3 linked regions of the Homo sapiens genome follow. The protein of the gene in region 1 purifies or fractionates together with the protein of each later gene. This does not show direct contact. Each region holds a gene or a part of one and is shown in the gene's direction. Other genes may lie near its edges. The genes, in order: FAM83A, CEP97 and SUGP2.

Evidence for each region.
Region 2: the proteins of FAM83A (region 1) and CEP97 purify together in Homo sapiens (affinity purification with mass spectrometry; one large-scale study listed by BioGRID and IntAct). This does not show direct contact.
Region 3: the proteins of FAM83A (region 1) and SUGP2 purify together in Homo sapiens (affinity purification with mass spectrometry; one large-scale study listed by BioGRID and IntAct). This does not show direct contact.

What each region holds. Positions count from the first base shown.
Region 1 is NC_000008.11:123,189,130-123,192,780, forward strand, and holds part of FAM83A (protein FAM83A), read left to right. Parts: intron 1-2,673; coding exon 2,674-2,841; intron 2,842-3,651. UniProt on the Homo sapiens protein: Involved in mitochondrial maintenance during adipogenesis. May be acting by playing a role in the maintenance of normal mitochondrial function.
Region 2 is NC_000003.12:101,727,561-101,731,211, forward strand, and holds part of CEP97 (centrosomal protein of 97 kDa), read left to right. Parts: intron 1-1,253; exon of another isoform or gene 1,254-1,275; coding exon 1,276-1,377; intron 1,378-3,651. UniProt on the Homo sapiens protein: Acts as a key negative regulator of ciliogenesis in collaboration with CCP110 by capping the mother centriole thereby preventing cilia formation. Required for recruitment of CCP110 to the centrosome.
Region 3 is NC_000019.10:19,002,516-19,006,166, reverse strand, and holds part of SUGP2 (SURP and G-patch domain-containing protein 2), read left to right. Parts: intron 1-1,520; coding exon 1,521-1,999; intron 2,000-2,558; coding exon of another isoform or gene 2,559-2,653; exon of another isoform or gene 2,654-2,671; intron 2,672-3,651. UniProt on the Homo sapiens protein: May play a role in mRNA splicing.

The sequences.
Region 1 (3,651 bases):
GCTTTCAGTGCTATAAGGCTAAATGTGTGCAAGACAATTAATTGTGTGATTACAGGGCCATGGTTCTAATGATCACAGCCTCATTATTAGAACATCTTTTCCGATTTCCTGCCCAGGGTGAGCAATCTCTGAGGAGTTCCCTCCCCTGTCCAGCTATCCATCCACATCACAGAAAGTTGATTCCAAGTGGATACCAGCCATCAGTTTGGCCTGCCAGTAAGACACCTCTCTTTCCTTGGCTACTTCCCAGATGGCGGTGGTTTTAAAAAATATATTGCAATGATTAGAAAGATAGTGGAAACTTATTATTACAGGTAATCTTGAAGAAAGGGAATGGCCGTATTCCCTGTGAAAGGAAAGTATCTTTGGCCCCCAAAATCACTAAGGAAAACTCAAGCTGGAAACTGCTTAGGGCAAACCTGCCTCCCATTCTATTCAAAGTCACCGCTCTGCTCACTGAGATAGATGCATATCTGATGCCTCCTTTGGAAAGACTAATCAGAAACTCAAAAGAATGCAACAGTTTTTGTCTTACTTATCTGTGGCCTGGATGCTCCCTCCTGGCTTTGAGTCTTCCTGCCTTTGCTTCCAGTTGTCCCACCTTTCCAGATTGAACCAAAGTACTTCTTACATCTATTAATTGATGTCTCATGTCTCCCTAAAATGTATAAAATCAAGCTGTGCCCCGACCACCTTGGGCACATGTCGTCAGGACTTCCTCGGGCATGTCCTCAACCTTGGCAAAATAAACTTTCTAAATTAACTGAGCCCTGTTTTATTTTCTGGGTTCACATCCCCCATCCTAACATGACTGTTAGTTTTTGCTTTGGGCTTACCTACAATCATGTACGGAATAATGACATTTTGGTTACTAACAGACCACATCTATGACAGTGCTCCCATAAGATTATAATGGAGCAGGTGGGGTGGCTCACTCCTGTAATCCCAGCAATTTGGGAGGCTGAGGCTTAAGGATTGCTTAAGCCCAACAGTTCGAGACCAGCCTGGGCAACATAGTGAAACCCCATGTCTACAGAAAAAAAATGAAAGAGAGAGAGGAAGAAAAGAAAGAAAAGAAAGAAAGAAAGAAGAAAGAAAGAAAGAAAATTAACATTTTAAATTTTTATGTATTTTCTTATTTTTTTATTTTGAGACAGAGTCTCTTTCTGTCACCCAGGCTGGAGTGCAGTGGTGCGATCTCGGCTCACTGCAACCTCTGCCTCCTGGGTTCAAGCGATTCTCTTGCCTCAGCCTCCCCAGTAGCTGGGACTATAGGCGTGCACTACCAGTCCAGCTAATTTTTTTTTTTTTTTTTAGTAGAGACGAGCTTTCACCATGTTGATCAGGCTGGTCTCGAGCTCCAGATCTCAAATGATCCGCCCGCCTCGGCCTCCCAAAGTGTTGGTATTACAGGCGTGAGCCACCGCGCCCGGCAGTAATTAACATTTTTAATGACTGCCTAATAAGCTGCTTGTCAGTATATCACAATTAAGGTATTAGAAAGGACTCATGACTGGGTGACAGAGAGTAAACCCAAACAAGCTTAAGAAGAAGAGAAACATTCATTAACATCCACAGTGGAAAAGTCAAGGGTGGCACTGGTCTCAGGCATGGCTGGAACCAGGTGTCCAAATGACAATGCTGGGACTCTGTCTCTACCTCCTGGCTGCTTTCTCCAGGGATGGCTTCATTGTCAGGCAGGCTCTCCCCAAGAGGTAGCAAAAATGGTTGCCAGCAGCCATTGCTTATAAAATACCAGCTAAGCAACCTCGTAGAAAGAACACCTCCTTTTCCCAGGAGTCCCAGCTAAAGTCCTGGGCTGACTCTTATTAGAATAACTTAGATCATGTGACCACCTCTGGACCAATGTCTGTGGCCAACAGGGGATGCCATGCTCCCATTGGTCTAGCCTTGGTCATGTGGTCTCCCCATATCCAGTCAAAGAATGGCAATAGACCCTTCCAAACCACATTGATTGTGGAGGGGAGGCAATTACTTAAAGTCAGATTGGGATGCTGTTGACAGAAGAAGGGAGAATGAATGCTTGGCAGGAGGAACACAGATGTCTCTCCTGCTCACTGAAGGTCTAGAACTCCCCTCCCCAGTTTCTACTGTGACACATGATGCAGTAGCTGTGGGTAGAGCGTGACTCCCTTCTCCATCCCACGGGGAGCAGCTTGCTCTAGGCGCTTATATACGGTGCCTCCACATGGGATTTTGTTTGAGGATAGGATTCCACGGCTTAACAGCATTTGAAAATCAGTGGCCATAGTGTGCCCTCTAGCTCCAAGTGGCTGAGAATCCATAACCTTAACTTTATTCCTCTTCTGGAACCGGTTGAGATGCTTCTTCTTGTTCTTCTCTGCTCTCCTTCTCTTTCTAGACTTTTCCCTTCCTCCTCTGCACTCCCCACTCCCACAATGGGCATAGGGGCCAACAGATAGGTGGTGGGACTGGAGAGATGGTATCAGGACAGGCGCAGGGGCCTCCACTCCAGCTCTTCCTTTTCCTTCCATTAATCCTGCCCAGTCAGACCCACTCTACCCCATCCTCTCCCCTCTGGCCCAATGGGAACAGCTCTCCCAGGCCCACTGGGACTCAGGCAGTTTGGGTGAAACCAGTTAGCACCTGCCCCTGACCTTTCTGGTAACTGAGCACTCTGCCCTGGCCCAGGTCCTGGTCATCCTGATGGATGTGTTCACGGATGTGGAGATCTTCTGTGACATTCTAGAGGCAGCCAACAAGCGTGGGGTGTTCGTTTGTGTGCTCCTGGACCAGGGAGGTGTGAAGCTCTTCCAGGAGATGTGTGACAAAGTCCAGATCTCTGACAGTCACCTCAAGGTAGGGGCCCCAATGAGAGTCCTAAGGGTACTCATATTAGCCCAGATAGGATAGTCTATGCAATAGTAACAAATGTCCCTCATCTTGTGTTAATAGCTTAACACAATAAAGGTTCATTTCTTGCTCAAACAAACTCCTATGTAGGTCAGATGGCCCTCCTCCATATTGTAGCTACATCATGAGAAATACACGGCCTCTAAGATAACCATGACAGGGAAAGAGAAGGCTGGGAGACTCTGCAGGATGTTTCCAGGATCTGACCTGGAGGAGATTTCCATCGCTTTCTCTTATAACTCATTGACCTTACCCAGATGCACGGATGCTGGGAAATGTAAAGGGTCATGGGTATCTGGTGAGCAGCATCTCTGCCATGTACTCCAGTTCTCCTCTCAGCTGGGGAAGCCCAGGGATTGCATCTTACAGGGCAGGCAACCTCCAGGGTCTGTGGGTGCATGTTCAGAACTCCCTGGTCCCAACAAGACATTGATCCTCTTGGACTTAACTGAACCCCGTACTTCCCTCTCCTGGCAAAGAGAAAAGAAACCCAGCGATAAGGGTTTGATTCATCACATAAATTTGAGGACAACTAATTCAAATGTGAACACCACCCATAGCTTTCATGAGTAGGCCTGGGTGAACAGCTGATTGGTGGCCCTCAGAGTTCTTTTGATCAGTCTCCTCTAGTTCAGGCAAGAGAGGTTCTGTCCTCTGGGAGAACCTCCCAGATAAGAATGAAGCCTCCTCCCTCCCTCCCTTCCCCTCTGCACAGATGCAGCTGAGTTCAGTGCTGCCTCCTGCTGCCACAGGCCT
Region 2 (3,651 bases), on another chromosome or scaffold:
TTTACAAAACTATTCTGCGTAAAAAAAATTCAAGCAATGTAGAAATAAGTCAAATTAAAAAGTGAAAGTACCCACTCCCACTCTCCAGGGATAATCTCTGTTAAAATAAACTAAAAATAAATCTCATTTTGAAACATATAATATGACATAATATTCTTTTAAATTTGAACAAAGAATCTATATTGTACTTAGAAAAAAGTAGATCAAACCATAGAGTGTTTAGGAGGGAGACTATATCATGCTGAATTAAGCTTTAAGTAAATGTTTAATGCTATAAGGGAGAATATACAGTTTTAAAAGTTAGGAGATCTGAATTCTAGTCCTACTTGCACTACTTAGTAACTGTGTAATTTTGGGTAAATTAATACATATTTCTGCGTCTTATTTTTTGGCATGCTAGCTGAGAGGACTAGATTACCAATAGCTGCCTTTTATTGAGCCATTAATGTATCTGAGCTACTGTTCTAAACATTTATCTGTATTAACTTATTCAATCTCATGGTAGCCTGCGAAGTAGATATAGACATTATGCGTGTTATAAAGGTGAAGGAACTAAAGCACAGAAAAGTAACTTGCTCAAGGTCACACAGCTAGGAAGTTGCAGGGCCAGAATGTAAATCCAGGCTGTTTGGTTTTAATCTAAACTTGTAAACTCTATTCTATACCACCAACTGTCATATATTATTACTATGGTTTCTTTTGTTTTTTTTTTTTTTTTGATGGAGTTTTGCTCTTATTGTCCAGGCTGGAGTGCAGTGGCACGATCTTGGCTCACTGCAACCTCTGCCTCCTGGGTTTAAGCAATTCTCCTGCCTCAGCCTCAAGAGTAACTGGGATTACAGGCGCCTGCCCACCATGCCTGGCTAATTTTTAGTATTTTTTTAGTAGAGACAGGGTTTCGCCATGTTGGCCAGGCTGGTCTCGAACTCCTGACCTCAGGCTGTCCACCCACCTCGGCCTCCCAAAGTGCTGGGATTACAGGTGTGAGCCATAGCGCCTGGCCATTACTATGTTTTTTTTCAAGCTGTAAAGATCTTGGATGGTATGAACTACTTGGTAGCCCTCTACTCATAGAGAGATAATGAAAGTGTACGTTTACAACCTGACAATCTACTAAATTCTGTTAGTACTGCCCCTTTTCTCTTGCTAAGTTCTTCTACTCTGCTTCTAATAATAAGAGGAGGGAAGACACTCTTTCAGCTGCAAAGAACTAGGGAATAATTTTATTTTTTGATTTTGTTTTCATTAAATAGTGTGATGCTTTTCTTGTGATAGGCCATGGAACAGATCAATAGCTGCACAGCTCTACAGCATCTCGATTTATCAGACAATAATATATCCCAGATAGGTGATCTATCTAAATTGGTATCCCTGAAAGTAAGTATGTTTTCTTTGTCATTTGTGAAGTTTTATAGCAAAATACCAAGAGAAAGTAATCTTACTGACCTAAAATTAGCCTGCTTTGTATGAGCAGATTGCTTTCTTTATGATAAGAATTATGGGCTGGGCATGGTGGGTCATGCCTGTAATCCCAGCACTTTGAGAGGCTGAGGCGAGTGGATGGCTTGAGCTCAGAAGTTCAAGACTAGCCTGGGCAACATGGCAAAGCCCCATCTCTACTAAAAATACCAAAAATTAGTGGGGCATAGTGGTGCGAGCCTGTAGTCCCAGCTACTCAGCTAAAGCAGGATTGGTTGAACCCAGGAGGTGGAGGTTGTGGTGACCCGAGATTGGGTCACTGCACTCTAGCCTGGGCAATAGAGTGAGACTCAGTCTCAAAAAAAAAAAAAGGAATTATGTTAGAATACCAGAAATTAAGTTTGAAACTTTTTGTTGTTAGTTATATAACTCATTTATTTGATGTGAAACTGGTCATTGTAGTTAAGGTTAATTTTATTTACCATTCTCTGAACATGATGGAATTCCCTGTATGCCCAATCAACCAATATTAGTAACTTCAGTTATTATATAGTACATAATCTTTGGTGAGGTTGAGATTAATCATTCCTGAATTTGAGTCTGTCTTTATTTTTTTTTGAGACAGAGTCTTGCTCTGTCACCCAGGCTAGAGTGTAGTAGTACAATCTCACTCGACCTCCCAGGCTCAAGTGATCCTCTCACCTTAGCCTCCCAAGTAGCTAGGACCATAGGCATGTGTACATCACCACACCCAGCTAATTTTTTGAGTGTTTGTAGAGATGAGATCTTTTTCTTTTCTTTTTTTTTTTTAGATAGAGTTCTGCTCTGTCACCCAAGCAGTGGTGCAATCTTGGCTCACTGCAACCCAAGCAGTGGTTGCAGTGGTGCAATCTTGGCTCACTGCAACCTCTGCCTCCTGTGTTCAAGTGATACTTCTGCCTCAGCGTCCCGCGTAGCTGGGATTATAGGCGCCCACCACCACACCTGGCTAATTTTTTGTATTTTTAGTAGAGACAGGATTTCACCACGTTGGCCAGGCTGATTTTGAACTCCTGACCTCACATGATCCTCCTGCCTTGGCCTCGCAAAGTGTTGGGATTACAAGCGTGAGCCACTGCACCTGGCCAGAGATGAGATCTTACTATGTTGTCTAGACTGGTCTCAAACTCCTGGACTCTAGCAGTCCTCCTGCCTCAGTCTCTCAAAGTGCTAGGATTACAGGCATGAGCCACCGAACTGGCCGAGTCTGTTTTTTTGTTTTGTTTTGTTTTGTTTTGTTTTGTTTTGTTTTGTTTTGTTTTGTTGAGACGGAGTTTTGCTCTGTTGCCCAGGCTGGAGTGCAGTGGCGCAATCTCGGCTCACTGCAACCTCTGCCTCCCAGGTTCAAGCGATTCTCCTGCCTCAGCCTCCTGAGTAGCTGGGACTACAGGTGCATGCCACCACGCCCAGCTAATTTTTGTATTTTTAGTAGAGATGGCATTTCATCATGTTGGCCAGGCTGGTCTCGAACTCCTGACCTTGTGATCCACCCGCCTCGGCCTCCCAAAGTGTTGGGATTACAGGCATGAGCCACTGCGCTGGGTCCCAAGTCTGGATTTTTTTTTTTTTTTTTGACATTCAGAATTGCTGTTTTTAAAGTAATAGGTATTAGCTAATTGTCAAAATTAATTTCACTTAGAAAAAAACATGTAGCATGTAGCACTTTTTATGGAGGGGAATGTATCATGCAGTCAAATAAGTAACAGTTGAAATCACAGTCTTGAAAAACATGTAGAACATTTTAAATATTGTTGCCTCATTGGATATTATTACCATCAGATATGTTCATTAAGCCCTAGAAGCAGTATCTTAGTTCACTTTTTCCCAGATCTTTAGCAGAAATCATTTTTAGCAATAATTATTCTAAACATTTTGATGTAGCCAGATGTTGTCCTAATAGATGCTAAGAGAATTCAAATGAACCAAAGATGATTGAATTTTTTTTTTTTTTTTTGCTGGAATAGAAGCCTATTTATCTGATCAGAATCCTGGGTGTTCAGTTTTGGGTTTATTCTTGGTTGTTGCTGACTTAATGTGAGTCAGCTTTATCTGCAAGTAACACATTCTACCTCCCTTTATTTTTTAGTTACCTAGAGAATACAGTTGCAATTATGGATGTAGGTTATCACTCTCTTTTTTGGAAAATTTGCTTTATATGTGGTTGTTTTAATGACTTTTTTTTTTTTTTTTTTT
Region 3 (3,651 bases), on another chromosome or scaffold:
CTCACTGCAACCTCCGCCTCTCGGGTTCAAGCGATTCTCCTGCCTCAGATTCCCAAGTAGCTGGGATTACAGGTGTCACCCAGCTAATTTTTGTATTTTTAGTAGAGACGGGGTTTCACCATGTTGGCCAGGCTAGTCTTGGATTCCTGACCTCAGGTGATCTGCCTGCCTCAGCCTCCCAAAATGTGCTGGGAGGCATGAGCCACCATGCCCGGCCCAGATTCATTTGTTTCTGCTGATATTTAGTTGTATGTGTGTGTGGTGTGTGTGTGTGGTGTGTGTGTGTGTGTGTGTGTGTGTGTGTGTGTGTGTGTGTGTGTGTTTGTTAGCCTGGTATAGTGGCATTTGCCTGTGGTCCTAACTACTTGGGTGGCTGATGTAGGAAGATTTCTTGAGCCCAGGAGTTTGAGGCTGCAGTGAGCTGTGATCACACCACTGCACTCTAGCCTGGACGACAGAGTGAGACCCCATCTCTAAAAATGTGTAATAATAATTATAAAGCCGTCCAGCTTTTCCAATACCATTCTTTGAAAGACCCACCCCTTTTTTGTAGTAGTTTGAGAGGTTACCTTAATCAAATGCTGGGTTTCTGGTCTTTCTATTCTGTTCCTTTGGTCTGCCTTATGGACTACTATGCTGTTTAACTCTAGAGGCTTTGGGGCATTTTATAGTGCTTGGTGGGGCTGGAACCCCTTATGAGTCTTGTTCAGAGTTTTCCCAGATACTCTTACATATTATTTTTCTTTATGAACTTTAGAACCATCTTGCCCTGATTCAGAATGGGATTTTATTGGGATATATTAATATGCTAACTGGGGGGACTTGGCACATTTATGAGGTTGAGTTGCCTTACGAGGGCCATTTTTCCTTTGGTCCAAGTGGACTTTGGTGCTTTCGGGAGTGTTTCAAGTTTCTCATACCAGCCACAGCTTCATAGCTGTGGTTACAAGTCGAGGTGGCCACCAGACCCCTGAGGCACAGAGAGGCCTCATCTCCACGCCCATGTAGGTGGACTGCAGGCCCCAGAGCGGGAAGTGCTAGGGGTGAGGAGCCTCCTCGGGGGGCACCTTACGGTTCCATGGTGCACATGTTCCAGCAGTAACTGTGCAGCTCCTCCTGGCATCGCTCCATGCTTCTCATACCTGGGAGGAACCAGAGTCAAAATGGGCACATGGAGGCCCAGAGAGGCCAGTGATGTAACCAGAAAGGGTGAGATGGGTCTCAAGCCAGATCTCTATTCCAGCATTTTCCCAAGCCCTGCATACCTTGTTCGTCCGCCTCTGTCCCCTGGAAAGCAGTTAGGCTTCTTGAATTCTAGCTCCTTATTAAGTTACTAGTACTCCTCAAATTTTCTATCATTGAGAGGCTGCACCATCAAGCCATAGCCGCGTAGAGACTGGTCAGGTTATTCTTTCCCTTGTCCCACCTCCACCTTCCTTGGATCAATCCCAGCAGTTTCAGCAAATAAAAATGTTGAGAGATTCCATCTGGTTACCCAATGTATTTCCTCTGTGCCCCAGGTTTCTACATGACCAAAATAGTTCTGCTTTCAAATTCTATCGAAAGAAAGTGTTTGAACTATGTCCATCAATTTGTTTCACGTCATCTCCGCACAACCTTCACACTGGTGGTGGTGACACCACGGGTTCTCAGGAGAGCCCCGTGGACCTCATGGAAGGGGAAGCAGAGTTTGAAGACGAGCCCCCTCCGCGGGAGGCTGAGCTGGAGAGCCCAGAGGTGATGCCTGAGGAGGAGGACGAGGACGATGAGGATGGGGGAGAGGAGGCCCCCGCTCCTGGAGGGGCGGGCAAGTCTGAGGGCAGCACCCCTGCCGACGGCCTTCCCGGCGAGGCTGCCGAGGACGACCTGGCTGGAGCACCTGCCTTGTCACAGGCCTCCTCAGGTACCTGCTTCCCTCGGAAGAGGATCAGCAGCAAGTCATTGAAGGTTGGCATGATTCCAGCTCCCAAGAGAGTGTGTCTCATCCAGGAGCCAAAAGGTGAGTGCCCGCCTGTCGGCACAGTTGCCTCTAGCACAGTTCTTGGTTGGTGGGCTGTGAGAGTTAGAAGAGACAGGTGGAGACATTTTAATCCAAAAGAGTTTTGTGCACCACTCCAAAATGTGAGCCGACACTCATGTTTCCCAGTGGTCTGAAGGCATTGCTCTAAGGACATGTTTCCTTGCTACCCTGTGGCTTCTGGCACTCTACTTGCTGCTGGACATTTCCCTGATTGCCTGGATTCAGGTCGGGGCATCCCCAACTGTGGAGGGGATGGGCCTGGGTCATCTCAGCTGTTTTCCTGCCTGTGACTTTGTCAGCTGGGGGCCCTTCTGAGCCCCTGGAAGGCCCAGGGTGCTGATAAGCTGCTTCATGTCATGACAGTGAGATGGGAACAGAGCAGGGGTGGTCCCAGGCAGTGGTCAGTGGGACCTGCCTCGGCCATGAGAGGCCATCTCCTGCTCTCCTGTGGGGAGGTTCCGGGTTCTTGAGGTATAATTTACCAGCAGTGAAACGCACCCTTTTCAAGTGGACCATTTGAATTTTGTTGACTGTGCAGAGGCGAGAACCCACCAGTACAGCAGAGCTGAAGCCTGTTCCCAGAACGGGTCTCTTGTCCCATTGCAGTCCCCTGCCCGATTCAGCAACCACTGACTGTTTTCCAAGCCCCAGGTATTCTATCTTTCCTAGTCTGTCAGTACATAGAATTGCATCGCATGTGGCCTTTTGATGGGCACGCCGTGGCCCAGATGACTCCTGTGCCCCCAATGCCCTCCAAGCTGTCTCCCCACAGTCAGGCCTGGACCGTGCTTTCACATGGGACTTCTGCTGCAAAACCTATGTGTGAAGTTGTAGTGAATGGTGCCCCATTGTGGGACTGTGTTAAACAGTCACCTGTGTGTTCTACATCATTCAGACAGTCACATTTACATGTGACAGTGGCCTTATGGTTTTTCCTGCTTTGGAATAGTCCTCATGTTTTGTGTTTGAAAAATTTGGTGTTGCAGTGAAATGCTAACCATTCTACTATAACCTTTACCATCCTTCAAAACTTCTCATGGGGCCAGGCGCAGTGGCTCGTGCCTGTAATCCCAGCTTAGCGGGACTGAGGCAAGAGGATCGCTTGAGCCCGGGAGCTTGAGACCAGCCTGGGCAAGATGGCCAGACCTAATCTTTACAAGAAAAAAAAATTAATGTAAAAAAAATGAAGTAAATAATTAAACTTGTCACGGATGGCAGGTAGTGTATCAGAGTGCTTGTTATGTATGCTCTTCTTGGGGGGAGGTGGAGTTTTTTATTTCTGCATTAGAAGCTCTCAGTTCTTTGGGTAGTTGATGAGATAAAAACCAGACCTGCGCCGGGTGTGCTGGCTCACACCTGTAATCCCAGCACTCTGGGAGGCCAAGGCGGGAGGATCGCCTTTGGTCGGGAGTTTGAGACCAGCCTGACCAACATGGAGATATCCCATCTCTACTAAAAATACAGAATTAGCGAGGCGTGGTGACGCATTCCTGAAATCCCAGCTACTCGGGAGGCTGAGGCTGGAGAATCGCTTGAACCTGGGAGGTGAAGGTTGCAGTGAGCTGAGATCACACCACTGCACTCCAGCCTGGGCAACAAGAGCGAAACTGTGTCTCAAAAAAAAAAAAAAA